Homo sapiens: one gene and its partners. The protein of the gene in region 4 purifies or fractionates together with the protein of the main gene of each other region. This does not show direct contact. Each region holds a gene or a part of one and is shown on either strand. Other genes may lie near its edges.

Region 1 (3,205 bases), on a different chromosome or scaffold from region 4:
GGGCACACACCCCAGAAGAATCAGTTTATGTTTGGCTCTGGTTATAGCAACATTAAGACGTCGCCAATCTTTCAAGAGTTCACCAACCTGTAAGAAATATAATTTTCAATTATTCAAGTTCAAAGGAATGGTTAAATATATTACAACACATCCCTACACAATGGACACCTGTGCAAATTTAAGAATAGAATGAGGCCAGGTGTAGTGGCTCATGCCTGTAATCCCAGTACTTTGGGAGGCCGAGGCAGGTGGATCACTGGAGACCAGAAGTTCAAGACCAGCCCGTGCAACACAGTGAGACCCCATCTCTACAAAATATACAAAAATCAGCCAGGCGTGGTGGTGTGCACCTACGGTCCCAGCTACTCAGGAGGCTGAGATGAAAGGATCACTGAGCCAGGGCTGCTTGAGCCCAGAAGTCAAGGATGCAGTGAGCCATAACCATGCCTCCACACTCTGACCTAGCCTCTCAAAAAAAAAAAAAGGAGACTATCTGAGGTAAGAACTGAGTAGATGAGGGATGGAGTACAAAGGAAACCTTTTATTACGTATATTTTAAAACCATATGGATGTATTATACAGTTGAGAAAAATGAACTAAGGAGAGGTAAAAATAAGAAAACCAAAAAAAAAAAAAAAAAAAAACACTATTTGGGAGGACAAGGTGGGAGGATTGCTAGAGCTCGGGAGTTGCCCATAAGCCCGGGCAACATGGCTCTCTGCAAAAAATACAAAACTTAACTGGGTATGGTGGCGCATGCCTGTAATCCCAGCTACTCAGGAGGCTGAGATGGGAGAATCACTGAACCAGGGAGGTGGATATTACAGTGAGCCGAGATTGTGCCATTGCACTCCAGTCTGGGTAACAGAGCCAGATCTCATCTCAAAAAAAAAAAAAAAAAATCAAATCTGAATTGTCTATAAATTTGAAAGTATACAAGGAAGATTTTATATTAAACAGGCCTCAATTACAACAGCCAAGGGGTGGAAGCAACCATTCCATCTGACAGATGAATGGATAAATAAAATGTGGTATATAGAGACAATGGAATATTATTCAGTCTTAAAAAGGAAGGAAATCCTGTCGCATACTACAACAGGATGAACTAGCTGGCTAAGTGAAATAAGGTAGTCACAAAAAGATAAATGCTGTACGATTCTACTTATATGAGGTACTTAGATTAGTCAAATTCAGAGATAGAATGTAGAATGGTGGTTACAGGTGCTGGGGAAGAAGAAAATGGGTGGTTAATCATGAATACAGAGTTTTAGATTTGAAAATGAAAAAGTTCCAGAGATCTGTTGAACAACACTGTGAATGCACTCAACACTAATTAAACTGTACACCTAAAAATGGTAAGATGGGCTGGGCACAGTGGCTCACGCCTGGAATCCCAGCACTTTGGGAGGCCAAGGCAGGTGGATCATCTGAGGTCAGGAGTTCGAGACCAGCCTGGACAAGATGGTGAAACCCCATCTCTAGAAAAGTACAAAAATTAGCCGGGCAAGATGGCGATGCCTGTAATCCCAGCTATTTGGGAGGCTGAGACGGAAGAGTCACTTGAACCTGGGAGGCGAAGGTTGCAGTGAGCCGAGATCGCACTACTGCATGCCAGCCTGGGCAACAAGAGGAAACGCCGTCTCAAAAAAAAAAAAAAAAAGTAAGATGTATGTTTTATGTGTTCTTTTAAACCACAATTTTATTTTCTTTAAAAAAAAAAAAAACCAGAATACATCTGCAGAACGTGCAGTTTTGTTACATAGGTAGACATGTGCCATGGCGGTTTGCTGCACCTGTTGACCCATCCACCAGGTTCCCGCCCCTCACCCCCAACCCGCTAAAGGCCATGGTGTATGTTGTTCCCCTCTCTGTGTCCACATGTTCTCAATGTTAAACCGCAATTTTTTTTTTTTTTTTTTTTTTGAGACAGAGTCTTGCTCTGTCGCCCAGGCTGGAGTCAATGGTACGATCTCGGCTCACTGCAACCTCCACCTCCTGGGTTCAAGCAATTCTCCTACCTCAGCCTCCCAAGTAGCTGGGATTACAGGCGCCTGCCACCACGCCCGGCTAATTTTTGTATTTTTAGTAGAGACAGGGTTTCGCCATGCTGTCCAGGCTGGTCTCAAACTCCTGACCTCAGGTGATCCACCCGCCTTGGCCTCCCAGGGGGCTGGGATTACAGGTGTGAGCCACCGCGCCCGGCCCACAATTTTTAAAGAGAGAGAAATGCCCCAAATGAATCAGTAGCAAACACAATTAACTCACAGTTCCATCCTTATTACTTCTAACAAAAGATACTAGGACAATACTTTTGTCCCTTCCTTGGTATTTGTCTACTGTATTAACTTCGACCATCCCAATAGAACGTGCCAATAAATCATTGATGATCTTTAATTGCTGCCTGTACGGTGCAATAATACCAATATCAGAGGGACTGCATCCAGCCTAAATAGAAAAAGACACAATTTAAAAGAAAGAAATCCTGATTAAGTTAAACTTTTCTGAATTTAATAATTAAATGTTTACATTATGTGCCCAACTGATGTTTATAACAAACTTTCCTATCTCAAAGACTGAATACAATTACTGAATTTGCTCTAAATCTGTCCATATTTCCCAGGATGAAATAATTCCTTAGACATTGCTCCCTTAATTTTTAGTTTCATGAGAACGTAAAGGATTATATGCTACTAAAACAGTGCACACACACACACACACAGTACAAAGAAATACATTTCACCTTCTGCTATTTCTTTCACAGAAAAATTTCCAATTCCTAATCACTACAACATAGTATTGTCTCAATTAGAATTAGCTGACATTACAAAAAGTTATTATCGTAAATGAAAACTCCAAATGTCATTATAAAATATTACATGTCTTAGATACATTTTCTCAAAATAAAAACAATGGGGCTTCAATCCCCCCCTTATCTTAATAAACGAGACTTAATGCCAGATTGTAAGTGTCTTACAGTCTAACATTCTTTTATTCTGCACTTTAATATTTGCTAGCCTTGAAAATTCTAAATTACCTTAACAAAAATGGAGGTTAGGAAAACTATGAGTTTGGCTTCTGTTACATTGCTCACACCACCTTTTTCAACTTGTTCTGGCGCTGGAACCTAAGTGGAAAAATATACAGCCTGCTGATAATACAATCTCTAAAGAGTACTATAAGTACGCAACTGGCCATAAAGACTATA
Region 2 (4,716 bases), on a different chromosome or scaffold from region 4:
TAGAGTGAGAGTACACTATTTTTTTTTGGAAACACAGTCTCACTCTGTTGCCCAGGCTGGAGTGCAGTGGTGCAATCTCACTCTCGGCTCACTGCAACCTCAGCCTCCCGGGTTCAAGCGATTCTCGTGCCTCAGCCACCCTAGTAGCTGAGATTACAGGCACGTGCCACCAGGCCCAGCTAATTTTTGTATTTTTAGTGGAGACAGGGTTTCGCCATGTTGGCCAGGCTGGTCTCAAACTCCTGACCTCAAGTGATCCACCCGCCTCTGCCTCCCAAAGTGCTGGGATTACAGACGTGAGCCACCATACCAGGCCGAGAGTACACTTAACAAAAATGTATTGTGCTCAGATAATGGACACCTTAAATACCCTGACGTCATCACTACACATTATATACATGTAACAAAATTTCACATGTATCCCATAGATTTGTACAAATTTAAAAAATAATAAAAAATTAGCTGTGCATGATGGCACATGTCTGTAATCCCAGCTACTCAGGAGGCTGAGGCAGGAGAATCACTTGAACCTGGGAGGCGGAGGTTGCAGTGAGCCAGGATAGCCACTGCACTCCAGCCTGGATGACAGAGGGAGCCCTTGTCTCAAAAATAAAAAAATAAAAAATAAAATGACACTTTTTGGGGAAAAAAATACAAGCCAGACGCAGTGGCTCACACCTATAATCCTAGCACTTTGGGAGGCCGAGGCTGGCGGATCGCTTGAGCCCAGGAGTTCAAGACCACCTGGGCAACAAGGTGAAACCCTGTTTCCCCCGACCCCCCTCAAAAAAAAAACTACCCAGGCTTGGTGTCGCATGCGCCTGTAATCCCAGCTATTCAGGAGGCTGAGGTGGGAGGATAGCTTGAGCCCGGGGAGGCGGAGGTTTGCAGGGAGCTGAGATCTTGCCACTGTACTCCATCCTGGGCGACAGAGTGAGCAGAGTGAGTTCCAGTCTCAAAAAAAAAAAACCTCCTTTTGCTGGGGCATATTGGTGGAGACGGTGGCTAGGGGATAAGTATGCAGTTTTTCTCTAGGCGGGAAACTTAATTGAAGTTTATCAGGCGCGAGTCATTAACAAAATTTGCGCCCTCTAAGCTAACACGGCAATATGGGGCTTAGACACCATAGCTAATCCCCAGTCGCGAAAAACCCTCCCGATTTGCTTGGGATTGGAAAGAAAAAGAAAATACACATTCATACTTTCATACATGACATACACACACACACACACATTTATATATAAATACACACAGAAAGCACAGGAAACACAAGCAGAATTAACTGTCTTGTTCATACGGCCACTCAGTGAAATGTATACTGTATATTGTGTTTGAAATATATACTTCCCTTCAAGTGTTTCAAGTTCAAGGCTGAGAAAGAACTTGGTCTCTTGCTTAGACTTGAGGAGCCTCACTCGGAACTGGAAGGATGCACGCAATCTAGTTGCCCCACCGGCTTATTTATATTGATGCACACATCGCTTCCTGTCGGTGACGACCGCCTAGATCCGGGGAAGGGTTTTGCAGAAGTACCCAGAACTGTGTCCAAGGTTTCCTCAGATTTGGGCTGTTCCGCAGCGGCAGGTCCCGGGAACCAAGGCAACAGACATCTTCCTAGGCTCGCGAGAGCGCCCCCTTGTCCCACGGCTGCTGGGGCCCCCCAGTAGCCATGGCTCCGGTGTCCGGCTCACGCAGCCCGGATAGGGAGGCCTCGGGCTCGGGGGGAAGACGTCGCAGTTCGTCGAAGAGTCCGAAGCCCAGCAAATCTGCCCGCTCCCCGCGGGGCCGCCGCTCTCGCTCGCACTCTTGCTCTCGGTCCGGGGACCGGAATGGACTCACCCATCAGCTGGGTGGCCTCAGCCAAGGCTCCCGAAACCAGTCCTACCGCTCACGCTCGCGGTCGCGTTCTAGAGAGCGGCCCTCTGCGCCCCGGGGCATCCCCTTCGCTTCTGCCTCCTCGTCAGTCTATTACGGCAGCTACTCGCGCCCCTACGGGAGCGACAAGCCTTGGCCTAGCCTCCTCGACAAGGAGAGGGAGGAGAGCCTGCGGCAGAAGTGAGTGAGACGGCCGCACTTTCTCTTGTACGAGCCTACGTGCCTTTGGAGTCCGATCTATCATTCATTCCGCTTCTGACTATTCGCATTTCGCTCACTCTGCTTGCCTTGCGCCCATTTTCATCCCTTTCTTTAATCCACCCACGACAACCCTTTATTCGTCCTTTTCATTTTCCCTTACCCTCAGGCCCCTTCATATAGTGCCCTGGTCTCCCGCTACCCCCTTCCGCCTCCTGTCTTGTTAGCGAATATTGCCGAGAGTTCAGACCTACCAGAACTGTAGCATTTACCTGGTTGTGTCATTATCATTCGTGAATATATTTGTATTCCCCACTAGACTGAGCTCATGGAAAGGAGGAGCCAGTGAACGGAGGAGAATTCTGATCACAGAATTCTAAGTGCCTGGTACTTTATAGGCGCTCAACCATTGCTTGTTGAATGAAGGAACTTACAGGTCTGAGATAACAGGATATTTATGTAGAAACGTTTTGTGGGGAATTAGGAAGGAATGAAATCAAGGGTTTAAGTTGGAGAGGAAATAAACCTTCCCCTCAGACAAGACGATTAGATGCATGTAGGAAAAGTGATCTGATAAGCTATAGATGACCCCACTTTGAGGAAGGTCTTGTTAAGTGGTCTCAGTCTTGACCTCGAAAAATGACGCCAGGATGAGACTAGATCTCTAATCAAAGTGAGTATTGGAGTGGAAAAATGCATAGCTTGGGGATTGTTTTGTTTTGTTTTTGAGACAGGGTCTAGCTCTGTCGCCCAGGTTGGAGTGCAGTGGTGCAATCTTGGCTCACTGCAGCCTCCACCTTCTTGGGCTCAAGTGATCCTCCCACCTCAGCCTCCCTCATAGCTGGGACTATAGGTGCGCACCACCACACCCGGCTTATTTTCGTATTTTTTGGTAGAGACAGGGTTTCACCATGTTGCCCAGGCTGGTATCGAATTTCTGGGCTCAAGTGATCCTCCCACGTTGGCCTCCGGAAGTGCTGAGATTACAGGTATGACCCCACATGCCCTGCCGAGCCTGTCCTTTTCATCACTATACTTTATTACCTCCCACTGCCGGAAGAAAAAGACTCAAGACATCTCCCAACTGTTGGAACTTTAACCTACCTCTCAATGCCTGTAATATTTCTAAGTTTCTCATTTTTTTAAACATATAAGTGCACGTAAATAACTTAGTACAGTGCCTGACACATAATTTAACAATAAACAAGATATTAAGACTTACACAGCAATAATTATGAGCCTTTTCCTTTCTCCTTAAAACTATGCATTTTTTGGCTGGGCACAGAGGCTCATGCCTGTAATCCCAACACTTTAGGAGGCCAAGGCAGGAGGATCACTTGAATCCAGGAGTTCAAGACCAGCCTAGGCAATATAGGGATACCCTGTCTCTACAAAAAGTGTTTTAAAAATCAGCTGGGCGTGGTGGCATGTGCTTGTAATTTCAGGTACTGGGGATGCTGAAGTGGGAGGATCACTTGAGCTGGAGAGGTCAAGGCTGCCATGAGCCATGATCTCACCACTGCACTCCAGCTTGGGTGACAGAGGGAGATGCTGTCTCAAAAACAAACAAACAAAAAAAAACAAAGAGAAGAACAGGAAGAAAGAAAGGAAAAGGACAAACTCCAGAATCAGACTGAGTATGAAGCCTTTATTTGCCACTTAATAGCTGTGTGACCTTGGTCAAGTTACTTAACCTCTCTGGGCTCCATTTCTTCATCATTAAAAGGGGGATAAAATAAGTACTATGGATTAAAAAGGGGATAAAATAAGTACTAGGGATTTGGGGATTGTAATAATTAAGTGGCTGGAACATAACTATTCCATAAGTGTTAGCTATTAATGTTTCATGCATGGGAGCAAAAACAGTAAAAACAGTCCTGAGTTAGGTTGGAGACCCATCTCTCCAAGTTACATTTTTCAGAAACATACCCACAGGCTATGTCAGTCAAAAAGTAAATAGTTTCTTCTTGGAGAATCCTCACCAAAAGATGTCAGAAGTGCTTGGATGAAACTTGCATATGTACATTTAGAAAATAAATAATTTATCTTTTTTTTTTTTTTTGAGATGGAGTCTCACTCTGTCTCCCAGGCTGGAATGCAGTGGTGCAGTCTCGGCTCACTGCAGCCTCCACCTCCTGGGTTCAAGTGGTTCTTCTGCCTCAATCTCCTGAATAGCTGGGATTACAGGTATGCACCACCACACCCAGCTAATTTTTGTGTTTTTAGTAGAGACGGGGTTTCGCCATGTTGGCCAGGCTGGTCTCGAACTCCTGACCTCAGGTGATCCACCAGCCTCAGCCTCCCAAAGTGCTGGGCCCGGCCAATAATTTATCTTAACATTACAGATGAAACCAGGTGACAACAGGACTTCCTGCTATTTACAGCCTGGTAGGCGTTCTTCCCCCGATATCCATACATTCCAAGTACAGCTATAAATATGTTACCTTTTAAATTGTCTGTTACTTCAGGTGGGAAACCCTCTCAGTCTGACTCTGCATAGTTATAATACCTTTTCCCCTGATTAAGGAGGCAAAAACGATTTATACAAAAACTCATTGCAATTATATTTATTTTGGAAGGATTTTTAAAAACAAATGGAGTCACAAGCAGCTAAAATTTGAGAGAATGAGCCTTAGTCTTTGT
Region 3 (3,144 bases), on a different chromosome or scaffold from region 4:
TTCAAGGCCCATGTGGGCTGTGCGTTTCTCAGACCCTCCTTCTGTCCCTACACCTGCTCCTTGGACCCCCCAGTCTGTGGCCACCCTGAAGAATGTGCAGAAACACTTGTGTGGCCTGTCCCTGTCTCTCTGACAGCCTTCTATTTGTGAAGTGCCCTGTGGCCCCCTCCCCAGCACCTCTGTCTGCCATGCGCTTCTTCCTCCCAGGCTACCCTGAGCCTTTCCTGGCCCAGTCCTCACCACAGTCCACAGAAGCCGCAAACAGGCTCATAGCCAAGCTGTGACCTGGTCCTGACCATCTGGGGCACGAGGGCCTGGGCTGGCCCTGCTAGGCTGGAGAAGCCCTGTCACCTGTGCACATCTTGCTGGTGGAGGCATGGCCCACTGTGCAGGACCCCACCCTCGGGGGCTTTCGGCTCCCACACTGATGATTCTCCCCAGCATCCACACCGGGCCTGGCGCTACGTACTCAGGCCCCCAGCTCTCGTGTCCTGGAGGAAGAGCTAGCTCCAGACATGGGTTGATCACCTAGAGGAGCTCTGGCTAAGGCACAGTTTTCTAGAAATAAAACATTTATTCGGTTTTTAAACAATTAAAAAATCTTGTCTGGGCAGGCCCTTTGCTCAGGCCTGTGTGTCCTGCTCAGCCACTCTGTCGACCACACTGACCCAGGGGCTGCCCCGGACATAGAAGCGGAGGGGTTTCCGGGCCCACTCCCCTGCATGGCCGACGCCCACCCGGGCTGCTGCCACTACAGCCGGCTCACTGGGCTCCAGGGGACCACGCTCCAGCCATACAGCTTCATCCTGTGCCAGGTCCCTCTGGTCAAAGCTCTTGTTGATGGCCAGGGCCTGGCACAGCTTGGAGGGGCCACTGCAGAGCTCGCGGTCCTTGAGGACACGGCTGGCGGTGCCTTTCCGGAGGGTGCTGCGAAGCTGACGCATGGTCTCCAGACCTTCCAGGGGCTCCAGTGCTCGCAGCAAGACGCAAGCCCCGTCCCCTGTGGGACGGACAGTTTGGAAGTGGAGCCTCCCTAGGCTCCTGTCCTCTCTGCCCTAGTACACATCCAGACATCCTGTGCTGCAGGGAGGGTGCAGCTGCCTTCCTGCCTGGGCCAGGGACCTGCTCTGTGCACCTGCACCATCTCCTGGGTCTGACCTGGTGGGAGGGGGCTGCACCTCACTGTGTCCAGACCCCTCTGCCTACCTTGCCATCCTCCAAGCCTGCACCATGAGGTGTGCCTCCTGTGGGCACCTCTGGCTTCCACCACCAGGCAGGGCCTCCCCCACTGTGGCCGCCCCCACAAAGCCAGACTGTTAAAAACACATGACAAATGCTGGGTATCAGTTCCTTTCCACCTGGCTTCCCCTGGTCTTGTGACTGGCAGCAGCTATAAAGCCAGCAAAGGAAGCTCCAGAGAGCCAGTCCTCGGGTGCGATCATTCAGCCAGGAAGCAGGAAGCCTTGGCCTAGCCAGGCCCCAGCGCTCCCCTTCTGCCTCACCCACTCAGTGTTTGTGTTGGTCAAGTGGTGGGGGCTAGGAGTTGGCTTAGAGCAGCTGCCAGTGTGCACCGGATGTTGGGAGAGCCCATGCAATGACTCAGTGGAAGGACTGACTGCAACACCCTGCACAGGCAGGGCAGGAGGAGGCTGACAAAGCCCCCTCACCTCCCTTGGGATCCCTCCTCCAGCCTAGCCCCCTCCCTCACCAGGCCAGGCCCCTTGAGAAACAGAGACAGCAAGCGAAGGCTCCTGGGCCCAGGGGCTCACTCAAGCACAGATACCCGAATTCCCTCTGCCCTGCAGGTTTGGAAAGGCCCCTTGGATTCCTGGCTGGGGACAATGATGACCTGGACCCTGGCCAGAAGAGCCCTGGCCCTCCAGCAAGGCAGCACCTGCTCTGATGCACCTGTGCACCCCTGGCCCTCCCAGCCACCTGGGAGTCCGAAGCTTAGCCTGGAGGTGGCCAAGCCAGTCCCTACTCTTGGGCTGCGGCCACGTGAGGCTCCGCATCAGCAGCCAGGGGCGAGCACTAGTGGACAAAGCCAGCAAATGCGGCGTTCCTGTGAGCAGATACCCTCAACCAGCCAGCTGTCAAAAGTATTTCAAGATAAAATCCAGGCCAAGCAAAGCCTTTAAGTTCCCGTCCATTCTGTGATTCCCACGCTGCTTCCAGCTCACCAGGTGGGGTGCCTGCTGCCCACCCTGACCCACCTCAGTAGGGAGGAGCAGGACCCTCTACATCCCTGTGGGTGCAGGGCACACGCCCCTCGTTGTCTCACTGAGCCCCCACAGAGCCGCCTGCAAATGAGTCAAAGCCTGGCCGCCCTCATCACCACAGCCCCGTGCCCTGGCTCCTTCACACAGAACACATCCAAGTCCCACATCCTGACAAAAACATGACCCCTTTGATCACTTCCTGCCAAACCTCCCTTTCCTCACCGACTCCTCCGCCGACCCTAAGTCCCCCTGCTGTGCCCACTGCTCCATCCTTGGCAACCTGACCACGCTGCTCTTAGCACTGCAGTCATCCTCTTCTCCAATCAGCTTCTCATCCTCATGTGCTGCCTCCGTCAAGGGCAGGCGACACTGTGTCCTCGGCCTTCTTTCTGCCTCCACTCCAACCAACCCTTTCTTTTCCTTTCCTTTTTTTTTTTTTTTGAGATGGAGTCTCGCTCTGTCACCCAGGCTGGAGTGCAATGGCGCGATCTTGGCTCCCTGCAACCTCCGCCTCCCGGGTTCAAGCGATTCTCCTGCCTCCGCCTCCCTAGTAGCTGGGATTACAGGAGCCCACTACCACACCCAGCTAATTTTTGTATTTTTGGTAGAGACAGAGTTTCACCGTGTTGGCCAGGCTGGTGTCGAACTCCTGACCTCAGGTGATCCGCCCGCCTCGGCCTCCCGAAGTGCTGGGATGACAGGCGTGAGCCACCGCGCCCGGCCCCACCCGGCCCTTTCTACCCCTTTAACCTAACCAGCCCTGCCCCGTCAGCGTAGCCAGAGCTCCCGAAACCCTGGCCTGGCCTGGAAGTGGCACCTCCTCGCTCAAATGCTGGCCCCACCTCAGTCCTCCTAGTGGTCCCCTGGCTGCTAGCGGACAGGGCTCTGCCGGCCCTCCAACCCCCCGTGCCCCAGCACTGCTCAC
Region 4 (4,083 bases):
TCATGAGTTAATACAGGGGAGGTGCTCTCGGCAGTGCTGGGAATCGTGTGTGCTCACAGAGGGCCAGCTCCTATCATCCCATATTAGGACTTTCCACCTATTTTGAGTCACTGAAAGTCCTTGTCAGGTAAAGGCAGGGTATAAAGAAAGAAATGATGCCAGGTGCAACGGCTCACGCCTGTAATCCCAGCACTCTGGGAGGTCGAGGTAGGCAGATCACCCGAGGTCGGGAGTTCGAGACCAGCCTGACCAACATAGAGAAACCCTGTCTCTACTAAAAATACAAAATTAGCCAGGCGTGGTGGCGCGTGCCTGTAATCCCAGCTACTTGGGAGGCTGAGGCAGGAGAATTGCTTGAACCCAGGAGGCGGAGGTTGCAGTGAGCCGAGATTGTGCCATCGGACTCCAGCCCGGGCAATGAGAGTGAAACTCGGTCTCAAAAAAAAAGAAAAAGAAAAAAGGAATGAAGAAATGAGAGCATGGAGGGGCTGGGGAGGATGCAGGCTCCAGCCCCACCAGGTTGCACAGACTGCACACGGCCCATTTCACAGATGGGAAAACAGGCCCGGGGCAGTGAATGAACTTCAAAAGGCAAATGGCCTGCCCTCTGCTTCTCCAGCAGAGGCAACAGCCCTGTGGGGCCAGGGGGTGGCTTGCCTTGCTGTCGGGGTAGAAGTAGTGAGGAAAAGTTATCAGAGGGGCCGTTGCCTTGGCCACTGAGTGTCCCCTAACCCTCCAGGGGACCCTCTCAGCCTGTTTCTTCCTCTGGGGAATGGGGCTTCCTGTCAGCAGCCCTGCCACCTCCACCCAGTGGCCCATGTCCTGTTTGTACCTTCTGCCAGGACATGGAGGAAGCCAATGTCTGTCTCTCACTGTCCCTGGTCCTCGTCCCTCCCTCTCCCCACATTCCTCCCACTCTCCTCCCCATCTGGTCTTTGGATGGGACAAAAGCATATATTTTGTATTTGTTTTTTCTCCAAACAACTCCAGTTCTCTGTTCTTTGCATTCAAAGTGCTCACTGTGCCTCTGCCATTTCCCGAACACAAGCTCAAAGCTGCCTGTGACCTGTTGGGGCTCTGATGGGCCTGTTTCCTGTAGGTCCTGCGCCAAAGCAGACTCACTTGGGGACTGAGCTCAGGAAGCCCCAAGGCCACCGGGCTCCAGATGTGGTCCTGGAGTGAGCACGTTGCAGGAAGGGGGCTCCTGAGCTCCCCAGCTGTTGCAGCCACTGGCCTGGCCTCCCCTACCCTCTGCACTCAGTCCACTGCTTCCCACACCACCCACCTGGTCATGACAATGTCGGGGGCCCATAGCCCAGGGCCCCTCCCTTCAGAGCCCAGCCCCACCAAGCCATGGACTGACGCAGGTCCCACTTGCACATCTAATAAGCATGTTCATGCAACAAAATTGAATTCAGCTCCCCCTGAAACTGCTCCACCTTCAGCTGATGACAGCTGCATTCTTCCTGACACCCAGGCCAAAAACCTTGGAGCCATCCTTGACTCCTCTTTCTCTTTCATCAGGAAATCCTACTGGCTCAACTTGCAAAAGAGAATCAGAATCTGACTGTTTTTCTCTTCTGTTTTTCTTTTTTTTTTGAGACGGAGTCTTGCTCTGTTGCCCAGGCTGGAGTGCAATGGTGCGATCTCGGCTCATTGCAACCTCCGCCTCCCAGGTTCAAGCTATTCTCCTGCCTCAGCCTCCCGAGTAGCTGGGATTACAGGCGCCCGCCACCATGCCCGGCTAATTTTTGTATTTTTACTAGGGACGGGGTTTCGCCATGTTGACCAGGCTGGTCTCGAACTCCTGACTCAGTTGATCCACTCGCCAAAGCCTCCCAAAGTGCGGGATTACAGGCGTGAGCCACTGTGCCTGGCCCCCAGGCAAACTCTTAACAGCTCCCCAGCTCACCAGGCTGCTCCGCCCCAACACATACTAACATATACTTGCTCTTCCCCCTGCCTGGAGTGCCATTCCCTACCTCACCTGCCTAGAAACCCTGACACACTTTCGAACCTCCCAAGCTTGCCCGGTCTCTGAGGCCTCTCCACACCTCCCAGCTCTCCCTCTAACTGGACCTCAGTACCGGCTGCTAACTGTCCACATTTCCCTTTTTCTTTTTTTTGAGACAAGGTCTTGCTCTGTTGCCCAGGCTTCAATGCAGTGGTACGATCGCGATCACAGTTCACTTCAACCTCAACCTCCTGGGTTCAAGCAATCCTCCCACCTCAGCCTCCTGAGTGGCTGGGACCACCAACACACAACGCCATGCCTACATCACCATGCTCAGCTAAGTTTTCGATTTTTTTTTTTTTTTTTTTTGAGATGCAGTCTCACTCTGTCGCCCTGGCTGGAGTGCAGTGGTGCAATCTCCACTCACTGCAACCTCTGCCTCTAGGGTTCAAGTGATTCTTCTGCCTCAGCCTCCCGAGTAGCTGGGACTACAGGTGCGCACCACTACACCCAGCTAATTTTTGTATTTTCAGTAGAGACGGGGTTTCACCATATTAGCCAGGCTGGTCGTAAACTCCTGACCTCATGATCCGCCCACCTCGGCCTCTCAAAGTGCTAGGATTATAGGCCTGAGCCACTGCGCCTGGCCCCATTTTTTGATTTTTTGGGCTTTTTTTCTTTCTTTTTTGAGACAGACTCTTGCTGTCGGCCAGGCTGGAGTGCAGTGGCGTGATCCCGGCTCACTGCAACCTCTGCCTCTCAGGTTCAAGCGATTCTCCTGTCTCAGCCTCCCGAGTAGCTGGGACTACAGGCATGTGCCACCACGCCCGGCTAATTTTTTTTGTATTTTTAGTACAGACGGGGTTTCACTATGTTAGCCAGGATAGTCTCCATCTCCTGACCTCGTGATCCATCCGCCTTGGCCTCCCAAAGTGCTGGGATTACAGGCGTGAGCCCCCCCGCCCAGACTTTTTTGATTTTTTGTAGAGACAAGGTCTCCCTGTGTTTTCAGGCTGATTTCAAACACATGGCCTCACACAATCCTTCTGCCTCGGATTACAGGATTGGGATTACAGGCATGAACCACCACACCCAGCCCCGCTGTTTCTTGAAAGCAAGGACTCATGGGAATCCTTGAAAGCAAGGACTCATGGGAATCCTTGAAAGCAAGGACTTGCCCATCTCCCCCATTTCTTGAAAGCGAGGACTCATGGGATTCTCCATGTCCCGAAGCCCAGCATAGGGGCCAACATAGCATAAGTGCTCAGTAAACGTTTGCTTAACTGTCAAGCCCCACATCCGAACAACCACAGCTCCTACAACTTGGAAAGCACTTTCACATCCACTGTCTCCTTCTTGCCTCCCAACAAGCCGGCGGGAGGGGGTGGGAAGGCCATCAATTGTATTGACAGAGGAGGAAACGGGCGCTCAGAGAGACAACACGTCTAAGATTGCTGCAATCCCAGGAACTGGCAAGGCCATGTTCCAGCCCCTCCCTGCCCCTCTGCCTCCCGCTCCCTGCACGCCCAAGATCCCTGACCTGGGGATGATGCGCTGGGTGAGGCGGTTGGTGGGGATGGAGAGGGGAACCTGTTGCTGTAGCCTCCGCTGCTCAAACAGGCCTGGGAGGTCATGGGCCCAGATGTGCGTGGATTTCCCTGCAGAAACAGGAAGAGGCCAGGCCTGGGGTGTTGGTGGGCAGGATGCTGAGGCGCTGGAGCCCCTGCGGACCCTGCCTCCCTGCCCATCCCACCTTGTACCTGAGAGTGACAGCAGCACGTTGTTCACGCAGTAGAGCCAGGAGCAGCGATGTGAAATCAGCTGGAGGCCACAGAGGGACAGATGGTCAGCACCCCAGGCCCCCACAAGGCCTCTGCCCCCCACAGCCAGCCGGGCCTCACCTTCTCCAGCGTATCCTCATGCAGTTCATGCAGGTTGAGTGTGTAGATGCCTTCCTCGGCCCCTACCACCAGGAACTGGTCTGCCAGTTTGGGCATGGGGTCAGAGGTCAGACATGGCCCCTGGCCCAAGCTGAGGGATTCCTTGGGCTCCCGCTTCCTCCCTGCCCCCACCTACCCCGAGTAACAGGGTGAATCCAGGTGACAGCAGCGTGGATCCGCAGGGGGCAG
Region 5 (4,083 bases), on a different chromosome or scaffold from region 4:
GGCAGCGTGGCCGGCAGGGATGAAGGAGGGAGCCGGCCTCCCGCTGCCTACGCGGGCTTCAGGGAGACCACACAAGTTCTCGGGGTCTCAGTTCCCCCACACGTAAGACTGTTCCTCAGGTTCCACCTGCCTTTCAGCCCTGTACATGTATGAGTTCAAAATTCAGTCGGCAGACAACCCGGCATGCAGCAGTCAGACAGGAGAAAATAAAAACAATGTGGTGGGGGTGGGTGGAATTCTACTAAGAAAAACAATTCGGGCTCCCAGGGAGCCTCCACAGACACCAGCCACCACTCAGCCCCAAGAGTTCAATGACACACAATCCCACTGCCAGGGCAGTAATGCTTCTTGGGGCAAAATACCATTGGTCTTAAGTATTTTGGATCAGAGCAAATTCTCAAGGCCATGAAGTTCACGGCCTCATTTGATGGTTTTATAAAGCTGCGGTCTTCATGCTCTAGTAATACACACTGATTTTCAAGATTACAAAAGCAGCAAATCCAGAGCCTCTACACGCCGGTTCAAGCCAAGTAGCCCTGCTCCCTTCCGCTGACCACCACCTGTGCCCCGCGTTCTGGCTGTGCGAGGCGCAAGCCCCACAGCCAGGCGGTCACGCCAGACGGGTTTACAGCCAAGACCATGAAACACCCAGGGCCAGAAAGACTGCACCTGGGAACATGGTACCCTGGGCTTACTGTGGCCCACGAAGCCTTCTGTGGCCACTGCACTCACACAGGGCAGCATGCTGCACCCACCCACTGCACTCACACAGGGCAGCGTGCTGCACCCACCCACTGCACTCACACAGGGCAGCGTGCTGCACCCACCCACTGCACTCACACAGGGCAGCGTGCTGCACCCACCCACTGCACTCACACAGGGCAGCGTGCTGCACACACCCGAGGCCTTGTCTGAGCCCTCATGGTCCTTACACGGCACCTTGACACATGGACCCTGCCCTCGACTGAGGCTCCGCCGGCTCGCAGCCAGCCACAGGAAGGGATCCTGGTCTCTGCTAGTGGGCTCCATGAGGTAACCAGAGTCAGAAACCAGGGGTGAGTCTCTTCCCCAGGACCAGCTGGCCAGGTGACTGAAACCAGCACAGCACCCACGCCTCTGCCCCTGGCACCTCCAGGCTGCTAAGAATCAGCTGTCAAGATGCTCGTGGGGACGGAAAGTGTTGCACACATAAGGGATTCTTACGAGGCAGAGGAAGCCAGGGGGGTTCTGCTGACATGCTGACAGCAGTGGACTGAGGGAGCCCACCTTCCATTTCCAGGCAGCCAAACAGCACTGACAGCAGCAGGGAGGCGGCCAGGTCATCACAGGGGCCTCCACACCAGCAGCCACTCGGCTGGCTCTGCATGGGGTGGTCACGCGTATGCCGCCTTCCCCCGCATACGGCTCCGTGGCTTCAGACAGAAACAGAGAAGCTAAGGGTCCCCTTTAGTGAGACTGGAGAGGCAGGGGGAGGGTGAAAGACAGAAAGACCTGCCGAGTCACATGACCTCCCACCATGTCCGCCGACCCCAAGGGATGCTGGGCAGCAGGCCTGGCTCAGCCGGGGCCCCACAGTCCTCCCGAAGGACATGTGTCATTTGAAACCTCATCCTCACAACCCGCTCAAGTGGGAAACCAGGCCTGGAAGGGTTAAAGGAACGTGAAAACAGAACTCCTAAACCCCAGCTCCCCGGGGAGGGCTTAGCTATGAAACAGGAAGCAGACAGGGCAAACCCTGGGACCCCTCTGGTCCACAAGAGGAAAGGCCCAAGGCGCCAACCCCAGCGGCAGAACCTCCTGCCCGCAGAGCTGAGGAGGACAGAAGCGGCAGGTGCCAGTCCCTCCTAAGACCAGTGGGCAATCATACAGCCCAGTCACCAAGACACGAGACAGGCCCATGGGAGCAACTGTTCCTCCTGCCGGGCCACCACAAGCCGCCCACCTCCCCAGCACTCCAGGCCAGCAGGGCCCTCCGGGATGGGGAGCTCAGCAAACAACACCCAGAGCCGAGACCCTGAGGCCCTGGTGCCCAGGACCGAGGAACGGCCAAACCTCACCAACGCCAGACAGAGGCACCAGGGACTGAAGCCTGGGAGAGTGAGTGCACCCGGCCCAGGAGGCTTCCCGGGCCAAGCCCACAGGCCTGAGTGGGAACCGGAACGCTGAAGGAACACTCCCCAAGGGGCGATGAAGTTCCCATCACTTGGGGACGTGGCGGCGATCCTGGCGCAAGCTCAGAGTGCTCATGCTGTGGGAAGAGGCTGCACGGGGCCCCGGGAGTGGCCGCTGACCCGCAGGCTCCCCAGACGGACGTTGCTGGGAGGACAACACAATGGCCCACGGGGGGACACAGGCTTCTCCATCCTCGATGGTGGATTCCGGAGGTTCATCCAGGATCCACTGGGGGAGGGGAGGGAAGCAGCGCAGTACTTTTCCACACGCTCCCCCGGAGCCCAGGAATGCTGCTCCCCAGGCCCAGCCGCCCACCCTCCTAAGCACTTGGGTTCAGCTTCACAAAACGCTTGAAACTTTTTTTTTTTTAAAACAATTTCCCATGAGAACCAGGGAGAGTCAGCAAGGAAATATCCATATTAGCAGAGACACCCCATTTCACTGGGAGACTGGCTCCCAGACATACAAGAACATGAGCCCCTGAGCCCCCACACTCCATCTGAAAACCCTCCCAGTAGCCCGGAAACTGGCCACAGGGGCATGCAGTTTGCAGAGAATCCAGCTGAAGGCAGCTCCCTCCGCCAGCTCCCTCGGAAGGAACGTGCTGCCGACCCCTGCTGGTGAACCGGGCTCCACCGAGACCGCATTCCCTGGCTTCCCAGGCCCTCTTCCCGCTGCCAGCTCCTCCAAAGGCTAAGGAACCAGCTCCAGGTCGCTTCCCAACGCTCAGCTGGGCGGGCCTGAGACCAACTCCACGCCAGTGGCCGGAAAGCCAAGTGAAAGCTGGTGACTCTGCCGGCAGCTGCGTGTTACAGACCAGCAGAGTCCAGCCCTCAAAGCGTAGCTGGAGGAAACAAAGGCTTTCTTCTTTCCCCTCTTGCTTTCCAGCTTTCTTTTAATCAACACGTATTTTAATAATGAAAAATAATCACATACTTTAAAATAATTACTTGAACCTAAACAAAAGGACAGACACCACTCCCTCACTTGGGCAGGAGTTTTAACCTCTGCCCACAGTCACCGTAAGCCGAGCTGTCTTGGGGGTGCTGCCAGTGACCAGCGGCCTGTGTGGGGATCTGGCTGGAGGAGGGTTCACCAAGAAGGGAGAGCCAGAAGCCTCTTGACTCAACTCAAAAAGTCCAGGGTGACGCCGCGCCCACCAAAGTCGTGTGTGCCTGAGGCTCTGCGGAATTGAGACTGGGCTGAACCACAGAACAAGAGCTCCAGCAGCTCTCGGGAAACCAGCGTCCATCTGGAACCCAAACTAAAAAGCACAACTGGACCTCAGGCTGTGAAGAAGGAGTGAGTAAGAGGCAGTCGGGGGGTGGGGGGGGAGGGGGGAGGGATAGCATTGGGAGATATACCTAATGCTAGATGACGAGTTAGTGGGTGCAGCGCACCAGCATGGCACATGTATACATATGTAACTAACCTGCACAATGTGCACATGTACCCTAAAACTTAAAGTATAATAATAAAAAATAAAAAAAATTTTAAAAAAGCACAAAAAAAAAAAAAAAGAGGCAGTCAGCCTGGGAGACACAGGAATTCAACAGCCTGCGGAGGAGGAGCCGAAATTCAAGGTGAGGCTCAGGTGGAACGCGGGGCTGCCTGCTGACCCGCTGCGCGGGAGCCGCAGGACCTCTGCACCTGCCAGGCCTCAGCCTCCGGGTGACCTTGGGGTGTTCTGCTAGAGAGCCCAGGACAAGCTGTCTGGCTGTGCTTGGGGTGCTGTCTGGCTTCCCTCGCCCGGGGGGTGGCAGTGAGAGACGACCCTCTGAGACAGCCAGGAGCTCCTCTAGGCACACACCCCAGCTTCTCCCCTCCACCCACGCCTGCTGAGCCGCCTGCAGCCACAGACGTGGTGGACGTGATTTCACACCACCTTCCGAGAGCTCAGCACTGCCTCAT
Region 6 (4,083 bases), on a different chromosome or scaffold from region 4:
ATCTGTACTCAGCAAACAGGAGAAGTCCTTATATCAAAGCACAAAACCAGGGGCTTCATCCTAAATAAAAGCCACATAATAAGCAGACAAAGGAAAAATTACCTCAAGGATGGGGATGGGAAGGAATTATATGATTACATCATGACCTCAGTATTGTGATTTAATGTGTTGTGAATTCCTGGCATGTCTGGCTTATCGGTGATAATATAAGCACGATATGCACTCTAAAGCAAACAGACAGGATGCCAATCTGCATTACAGCTCTTACCTAATCAAGAGTTGACACATTTTCAGATGCTTTGGTGAAAAGAAGAGGGAGAGGCAGGAATGATCAAAGTAAACATTTTACCTTGAATTTAGAGGGAATAAAAATATAATATTGCTGTAATTTTTCAACTGTCTGGTATTTAGAGGAAACGGCACATTTCACAGGATTCTTCAGAGCTGCTCGCTGAAGTTTTTGAACCTGAAGGAAGAAGATCCAGAATAGCACACTGATGCCTAAACACTCTTTATTTATGACATGGTTTGGCTCTGTGTCCTCACCCAAATCTCATGTTGAATTGTAATCCCCACATGTCACGGGAGGGACCTGGTGGGAGGTTATTGGATCACAGAGGTGGTTTTCCCCATTGCGGTTCTCATGATAGTGAGTTCTCACAATTTCTCATGGTTTTAAAGTGTGGCACTGCCCCCACCTCCTGCCTTGCTTCCCCTTCACCTTCTGCCATAATTGTAAGTTTCCTGAGGTCTTCCCAGCCATGTGGAACTGTGAGTCAATTAAACCTCTTTTCTGTATAAATTACCTAGTCTCAGATAGTTCTTTATAGCAGTGTGAAAACGGACTAAAGCAATTTATTTTTCCTTATTGTTATTACTATTTACTTTATGTATCAATTCTCATAAAGAAGAAACAAAAGTCCTAGCAAATTTCACCTTCTTGGTCATGGTGGCAGAGAAGAGGAATGTTTTCCGATCTCGAGGAATCACTTTGAGGATCTTGTCAACCTAAAGCACAAAGAGGAAAAGATGCCAATATGATATTCAGACTGGAAGAGCTGCAAATCCTCTAGGTAGTGAAGGAGGTAGACACTAACAAACTAAATATATCACTGTGAAGATTTGGGACTCGAAAATTCAATTTGATTCAGCTAAAGTTTACTGAATATTTACTATCTGATACCCTACCAAATACTATTAAAAAAAATACCTTTCTGAGAAAAGAACAGTTTAAATTAGTAGACCAGAGCTGATTTAAGAGAAAAGTCAAGAAAAAGTATTAATCAACTAAGTAAGCTGGGATTAGTGGGTCATCAAAGAAAATAAAGATATTTCAGGGTGTATGTCAAGGTCTAAATTAAACGAAAGGGAAAAGAAAATCCGGTTTTGATATTTCCCATTTCTGAAGTCAGAGTCAGACTATATTCTAAAGATAAAAGGGTGCTGAGAAACTGCAATTTGAAGAATATCAAGAATGAAACTGATACTAATGCAATGTTCTACATGAAACAAGTGGGCAATGAACCAAATTTTGAAACAGGAACCTTGAGATGCTCTAAGAGGAGGAAAGAAATTGAGAGCTCACCTCTGTCTCAAAATCCATATTCAGTATTCGGTCGGCTTCATCCATGACCAAGTATTTGAGAGCTCTCAAGTTGAAACCTTTCGTATTTTCCAAGTGGTCAATCAGTCGACCAGGAGTTGCTACCAAGAAAGGTTGAGGAGAAACAGTGACATTTCAGAACAGGACAAAAAAAAAACAAAACAAATAAACAAATAAAGTTATCTGCCCCACCCCACAGCTCTCCACCAAATTTAACTTAAGAAATTAAAAAATTTAACAGGGTTACAAAATCTGTTTCTCAAAGTCTTTCTATCCAACACTGGTAGATTTTCTCCAATTCATCACTGCCAGTGTCTTTTACCTTTGTCAGTTACTCACCTATTATTATATGTGGTTTTTTTGCAAGGGCCAAAGATTGAGACATTGAATCAATTCCACCTACAATCACAGCTACAGAGAAAAAAAGAACATAGAGACGAGATCCTTAATTTTTTCCACAGTCCACTGAACATCTTTTAAAGCCAATGCCAGATTTCTACTTAGATTTGTTCTTCCCTTACAATTAATACTCTTCCCAAAGCTCAAATACAACATTAGCTCTTTAGGTCAATAAATTATGCTAGCAATACTTTCCTCCATTCTCCTTCCTCCACACTCATTCTTCACTTGTGATGGCAACCTAGGATCCCTTCCCTCTCAGACACTTACCACTCTGCACTCCAATAGAGGACCCCAGGGCTTCAAACTGCTCTGAGATCTGAAAGGCCAGCTCCCGAGTCGGGGTAAGAACTAGGGCAAACAAACGCTGCGGGGTCTCCAGCAGTGCGTTTAGAATGGGCAAAGCAAAGGCGCCTGTCTTTCCAGAGCCAGTTTCTGCAAGCCCAATGATATCACGACCTAAAAGAAAAAGAAATTCAACAGCCAAGTAATCTCTTTGCGCTATTTCTGTGTTTTCTACAATGACACAATGCTGGGCACAAAGTAGACGCTTAATAAATATCTGATGAACTGGGGAGAGAGGAAAGTTGAATAAACAGAAAAGACATGGCCTCTCTCTTAGATAAGCTCAAAACCCAGTGGTGAGACAGACAAATATACAAATGCATTATAATGTGATAAGAGTTTTAATATAAGCCCCTGCAAAATACAGCGAGAACACAAGGAAAAGTAACTACTGCCCAGAAGAGTCAGAAAAGGCTAACAGAGGTGATAAGTGAGTTAAAACTGGAAGTAAGCAAAGAAGGGAAGAAAGGATATTCCTGTAAGAGGAAAGAGAATTAAGGCTTTAGAGAACATAGCATGCTGGCTGGGCATGGTAGCTCACGCCTGTAACCCCAGCAGTTTGGGAGGCCGAGCCAGGCAGATCACCTGAGGTTGGGAGTTCGAGACCAGTCTGACCAACAAGGAAAAACCCTGTCTCTACTAAAAATACAAAATTAGGCGGGCATGGTGGTGCATGCCTGTAATCCCAGCTACTCGGAAGGCTGAGGCAGGAGTATTGCTTGAACCCGGGAGGCGGAGGTTGCGGCAGCGGTGAGCGGAGATCGTGCCACTGCACTCCAGCCTGGGCAACAAGAGCGAAACTCCATCTCAAAAAATAAAAAGAACATAGCATGCATAGTTAGGCTGAGAAGTACAATGTGGCTGGAACACAGAAGTGTTAAGGGAGAAAGAGGGAAGAATGAGGCTAGAGTTTTGATGTTTTCCTATAAGAAAGAATTAAAGGATTTTAAACAGGGAATATCATGATCAATATTACTGTTTAGGAAGATAAACTCTAGACCTGATGGCATAAGGAGGAGCCAAGGAACTTAACAGTGCATGCCAGTTACTGCTCCTTCTGAGGGAAGAATGCTCTAAGTAATTCTTTAAGAACAGGTCACCACTGTTTGCTATCACCACTCAAGCCACAACTCATAAGACTTGGAAATTAACTCCTGAGTTGAGATCACTATCTCCGAGCTGGCTGTAGCCCATGAGGTAGCTATGCACTACCACAGTGGCCAGTGAGAATGCTCCCTATTAAATCATGACCCCTACAGTTGCTGCCCCTGTTCTGACTGTGTAACTGCTGAGAAGTTTTCTTTACCTAGAAGATAATCCTACAATAAACAAATCTCTTTTCCCTGACATAACCTGAACATGACTTACAATCAGAAATGACTTAAATGACCAGAACAGGGAAAACAAAGGCTTAACTGGGACATTGGATGTAATTCAGGGGAGATATGATGGTGGCCTGAACTGAGGCCAGGAATGAGCACAGGAATGAGATTCAGAAACTAACAAAAGGAAATGTGGGTGACTCACACATTTTTAGTACGGGACACTCAAAAGCCAAAAACTGCAATATAGGCAACAGAAAAATTAGTCCTGGTGAGGAAAATAAGGACTTTGGTTTCCACACAGGGAACTTGGAACTTAAGATTCCTATAGTAAACTCAAAGAGATATGTCTAAAAACCAGTTGGACATACTTGTTTAGAGATATGTCTAAAAACCAGTTGGGCATAATTATTT
Region 7 (4,083 bases), on a different chromosome or scaffold from region 4:
TGGGAGGCCAAGCTAGATGGATCGCCTGAGGTCAGGAGTTGGAGACCAGCCTGGCCAACACGGTGAAACCCCAACTCTACTAAATACAAAACTCAGCCGGTCATGGTGGTGCATGCCTGTAATCCCAGCTACTTGGGATGCTGAGGCAGGAGAATCACTTCAACCCGGGAGATAGAGGTTGTAGTGAGCCAAGATCACACCACTGAACTCCAGCCTGGGCAACAAAGCAAGACTCCATCACAAAAAACAAACAAACAAACAAAAAAAAAACTTAACTATTGGGTACTAAGCTCACTATCTGGGTGATGGGATCACTCATACCCCAAACCTCAGCATCACATAATTATACCCATGTAACAAACCTACACATTTTCTTTTTTTTTTTTTTCTTTTTTTTGAGACGGAGTCTCGCTCTGTCGCCCAGGCTAGAGTGCAGTGGCGTGATCTCGGCTCACTGCAAGCTCCGCCTCCCGGGTTCACGCCATTCTCCTGCCTCAGTCTCCCGAGTAGCTGGGACTACAGGTGCCCGCCACCATGCCCGGCTAAGTTTCTTTTGTATTTTTAGTAGAGATGGGGTTTCACCGTGTTAACCAGGATGGTCTCAATCTCCTGACCTCATGATCCGCCCGCTTCGGCCTCCCAAAGTGCTGGGATTACAGGCGTGAGCCACTGCGCCCAACCACAAACCTGCACATTTTCTAAATCTAAAATAAAAATGGAAATCAACAAATAGGCCAGGCATGGTGGCTCACGTCTGTAATCCCAGCACACTAGGAGGCTGACGTAGGAGGATCACTTGAGCCCAGGAGTTCAAGACCATCCTGGGTAAGATGGTAAGACCTCCATCTCTATAAAAAATTTAAAAATTAGGCTGGACATGGTGGCTTACACCTGTAATCCCAGCACTGGGAGGCCAAGGCGGGTGGATCACCTGAGGTCAGGAGTTTGAGGCCAGCCTGGCCAACACGGTGAAACCCCGTCTCTACTAAAAATACAAAAATTAGCTGGGCGTGGTGGCACGTGCCTGTAGTCCCAGCTACTTGGGAGGCTGAGACAGGAGAATCGCTTGAACCTGAGAGGCAGAGGTCGCACTGAGCCGAGATTGCACCACTGCACTCCAGCCTGGGCGACAGAGCAAGCGTCCATCTCAAAAAAACAAAAATAAAAAAGGTAGTCCTATCATTTAATCACATTTCCCAAAGCTTTTGTTATGTAAAATACTACTCCCATAAGATATTAAACAGGGGTTATCCCTAAAAATTGTTAAATAAGTTTGGGAAATTCTGGGTTAAACACCAAAAAAGATTTTGCGTTTGTTTTTTTTAACAGCAAGGCTTAAATGAGTTACTATGTTCTTATTCAGGTACATATGCAAGATGGGAATATGGTTTACAGTGTTTCTCAAAATTTGTGCACAGAAACATTATTTGCATTTTATTTTATTTATCTTTGAGATGAGGTCACTGTCACCCAGGCTGGAGTGCAATAGCTGGACCTTGACTCACTGCAGTCTCCACCTCCCAGGCTCAAGCAATTCCTCCCACCTCAGCCTCCCAAGTAGTTGGGACTACAGGAGTGTGTGTGTCACCACACCCAGTTAATTTTTTGTATTTTTAGTAGAGACGAGGTTTTGCCATGTTGCCCAGGCTGGTCTCGAATTCCTGGGCTCAAGCAATCCACCCGCCTCAGCCTCCCAAAGTGTTGAGGTTACAGGCGTGAGCCACCACTCCCGGCCTCTATTTTAGTTATTTATTTTGTGTCACATCTCAGAAGATTACTAGGTGTTTCAAGGATTCATATTTTAGAAAATAACAGCCAATCTTAACAGTATAATTCAAAATATGTCATTTTACCTTAATGTTATATATGCATATGTGCTTAGAAAAACTAGGCTGGGGGCCAGGCATGGTGGCTCACGTCTATAATCCCAGCACTTTGGGAGGCCAAGGCAGGCAGATCACCTGAGGTCAGGAGTTCGAGACCAGCCTGGCCAACACGGTGAAACCCCATCTCTAACTAAAAATACAAAAAAATAGCTGGGCATAGTGGTGCGTGCCTGTAATCTCATCTATTTGGGAGGCTGAGGCAGAATAGCTTGAGCCCAGTTGGCAGAGCAGAGATCGCGTCACTGCACTCCAGTCTGGGTGACTGGAGACAGAGCAAGACTCCGTCTCAAAAAAAAAAGAAAAAGAAAAAAGAAAAACTAGGCTGGGTGCAGTGGCTCATGCCTGTAATCCCACCACTTTGGAAGGCCATGGTGGGAGCACTGCTTGTGAAAATGAGTTTGAGAACAGCCTGGGCAACATAGCTCTATAAAAAAATTCAAAAATTAGCCAGCCATGGTGGCGCATGCCTGTAGTACTAGTACCAGCTACTCAGGAGGAGGAGGCAGGAGAATTGCTTGACCCCAACAGTTAAGACTACAGCAAGCTATGACTGTGCCACTGTACACTAACCTGGGCAACAGAGCAAGACCTTGTCTCTTTAAAAAAAAAAAAGGAAAAGAAAAACTAGTTGCTCATGCCTATAATCCCAACACTTCAGGAGGCCAAGGTGAGAGGATCACTTGAACCCAGGAGTTGGAGACCTGCCTGGGAAACATAGCAAGACCTCATCTTACAGATAATTTAAAAAATCAGGCCGAGCACGGTGGCTCATGCCTGTAATTCTAGCATTCTGGGAGGCCAAGGTGGGCGATCCTTTGAGGCCAGGAGTTCAAGACCAGCCTAGACAACATGGTAAAACACCATCTCTACTAAAAATACAAAAATTACCTGGGAGTGGGGGTGCATGCCTGTAATTCCAGCTACTCGGGAGGCTGAGGCAGGAGAATCACTTGAGCCCAGGAGGTGGAGATTGTAGTGAGCAGAGATCGCACCACTGCACTCCAGCCTGGTGACAAAGCGAGACTCCGTCTCAAAAAAAAAAAAAGAAAAAAAAAGAAAAAGAAAATAACCCTAAATGCCGAAAAAGATGCATGCACAAAAACATTCTAGTGTTCTTATAATAAAAATTCTGAAAACAATCTAAAAGTCCAATAACAGAAGAAAGTAAGATAGGGTGCATGCCCAAACTATAAAACACTCTGCCAGTATTTTAAAAGATGTTTACAGAGTTTTTAATAGCAAGGAAAAACATTTACCTCATAAGGCTAAATGAAAAGGCAAGATATAAAAATGTATATACCATCTGGTTCTGCTATGTTTAAAACAGTTTAGAAAGATATATGCCATATATAACAGCAGACTCTGGGTTGATGAATTAATATTGAACAAAAATTACATAACTAAATTTGCACTTAAGAAGCAGTAATCTGGTAGCAGTGTATCTGTAGAAATGAAACAAGAGAGGGACTGGAAATACGATGACCAGTTTAGGAGGTCACAGTAATATTTGCAGAACAACAGAAACTAGAATTTTAGCAGGCACTTGGAATGGCCCAAGTACTATGCCTGGTACTTGGCCATATATAGTAATTTCTTCTAACCCATACAATGACCCTTACATAATAGTAATAATTATAGAACAATGTGTTGGACACTTTTTATGTGCCAAACATGTAAATTACTTTATTTAAATTTTAATACGCATAATAATCCTGTGTTGCAGGAGTTATTCCAATTTCATTGATGAGAAAACTAAGACTTAGATTCCCAAGGCTATATAGCTAACAAGTACTGTAGATGGGATAAGGGTAACAGCAGTAGGAATAAAAGAATGATATTTTGATAACTGATATACATGAGGAGGGCAAGAGAGAAGTAAAAGATGATAATAAAAATAATCATAAAAAAATAAAACTCCCATAAATAAAAAAAAATACTCCCATAGAAATAAAAACACCTAGTGATCAGATCTTAGTTTTTAACATTACTCTTTAGTAAAAAGAACAAGGGCTTCTTGGAGAAATGGCAGACCGCAGGACTGGAGCAGAGAACAAAATCATACCTGCAATGATGGCAAATGTCAAAGGGAGATGGGCCAAGTAAAAAACTAAAAGAGTTCCCAATGTTCAAAACTGGAACATTTGAGCAATAAAGCAAATAAAATAGTATTGGATTATAACCTAACATATAAAATACA

Evidence for each region.
Region 1: the proteins of MAP4K2 (region 4) and DNA2 purify together in Homo sapiens (affinity purification with mass spectrometry, with the first as the bait; one study listed by BioGRID). This does not show direct contact.
Region 2: the proteins of MAP4K2 (region 4) and NKAP purify together in Homo sapiens (affinity purification with mass spectrometry, with the first as the bait; one study listed by BioGRID). This does not show direct contact.
Region 3: the proteins of MAP4K2 (region 4) and MPG purify together in Homo sapiens (affinity purification with mass spectrometry, with the first as the bait; one study listed by BioGRID). This does not show direct contact.
Region 5: the proteins of MAP4K2 (region 4) and CHLSN purify together in Homo sapiens (affinity purification with mass spectrometry, with the first as the bait; one study listed by BioGRID). This does not show direct contact.
Region 6: the proteins of MAP4K2 (region 4) and DDX47 purify together in Homo sapiens (affinity purification with mass spectrometry, with the first as the bait; one study listed by BioGRID). This does not show direct contact.
Region 7: the proteins of MAP4K2 (region 4) and PYM1 purify together in Homo sapiens (affinity purification with mass spectrometry, with the first as the bait; one study listed by BioGRID). This does not show direct contact.

What each region holds. Positions count from the first base shown.
Region 1 is NC_000010.11:68,416,769-68,419,973, forward strand, and holds part of DNA2 (DNA replication ATP-dependent helicase/nuclease DNA2), read right to left. Parts: intron 3,125-3,205; coding exon 3,035-3,124; intron 2,446-3,034; coding exon 2,266-2,445; intron 88-2,265; coding exon 1-87. UniProt on the Homo sapiens protein: Key enzyme involved in DNA replication and DNA repair in nucleus and mitochondrion.
Region 2 is NC_000023.11:119,940,559-119,945,274, reverse strand, and holds the start of NKAP (NF-kappa-B-activating protein), read left to right. Parts: upstream 1-1,523; 5' UTR 1,524-1,669; coding exon 1,670-2,055; intron 2,056-4,716. UniProt on the Homo sapiens protein: Acts as a transcriptional repressor. Plays a role as a transcriptional corepressor of the Notch-mediated signaling required for T-cell development. Also involved in the TNF and IL-1 induced NF-kappa-B activation.
Region 3 is NC_000016.10:83,257-86,400, reverse strand, and holds the end of MPG (DNA-3-methyladenine glycosylase), read right to left. Parts: intron 1,016-3,144; exon of another isoform or gene 1,001-1,015; coding exon 624-1,000; 3' UTR 555-623; downstream 1-554. UniProt on the Homo sapiens protein: Hydrolysis of the deoxyribose N-glycosidic bond to excise 3-methyladenine, and 7-methylguanine from the damaged DNA polymer formed by alkylation lesions.
Region 4 is NC_000011.10:64,792,779-64,796,861, forward strand, and holds part of MAP4K2 (mitogen-activated protein kinase kinase kinase kinase 2), read right to left. Parts: coding exon 4,031-4,083; intron 3,936-4,030; coding exon 3,856-3,935; intron 3,776-3,855; coding exon 3,715-3,775; intron 3,613-3,714; coding exon 3,495-3,612; intron 1-3,494. UniProt on the Homo sapiens protein: Serine/threonine-protein kinase which acts as an essential component of the MAP kinase signal transduction pathway.
Region 5 is NC_000007.14:1,121,069-1,125,151, forward strand, and holds part of CHLSN (protein cholesin), read right to left. Parts: intron 3,475-4,083; exon of another isoform or gene 1-3,474. UniProt on the Homo sapiens protein: Hormone secreted from the intestine in response to cholesterol, where it acts to inhibit cholesterol synthesis in the liver and VLDL secretion,leading to a reduction in circulating cholesterol levels. Acts through binding to its receptor, GPR146.
Region 6 is NC_000012.12:12,819,586-12,823,668, reverse strand, and holds part of DDX47 (probable ATP-dependent RNA helicase DDX47), read right to left. Parts: intron 2,462-4,083; coding exon 2,273-2,461; intron 2,015-2,272; coding exon 1,943-2,014; intron 1,705-1,942; coding exon 1,586-1,704; intron 1,009-1,585; coding exon 937-1,008; intron 467-936; coding exon 350-466; intron 1-349. UniProt on the Homo sapiens protein: Required for efficient ribosome biogenesis. May have a role in mRNA splicing. Involved in apoptosis.
Region 7 is NC_000012.12:55,917,719-55,921,801, forward strand, and holds part of PYM1 (partner of Y14 and mago), read right to left. Parts: intron 31-4,083; exon of another isoform or gene 1-30. UniProt on the Homo sapiens protein: Key regulator of the exon junction complex (EJC), a multiprotein complex that associates immediately upstream of the exon-exon junction on mRNAs and serves as a positional landmark for the intron exon structure of genes and directs post-transcriptional processes in the cytoplasm such as mRNA export, nonsense-mediated mRNA decay (NMD) or translation.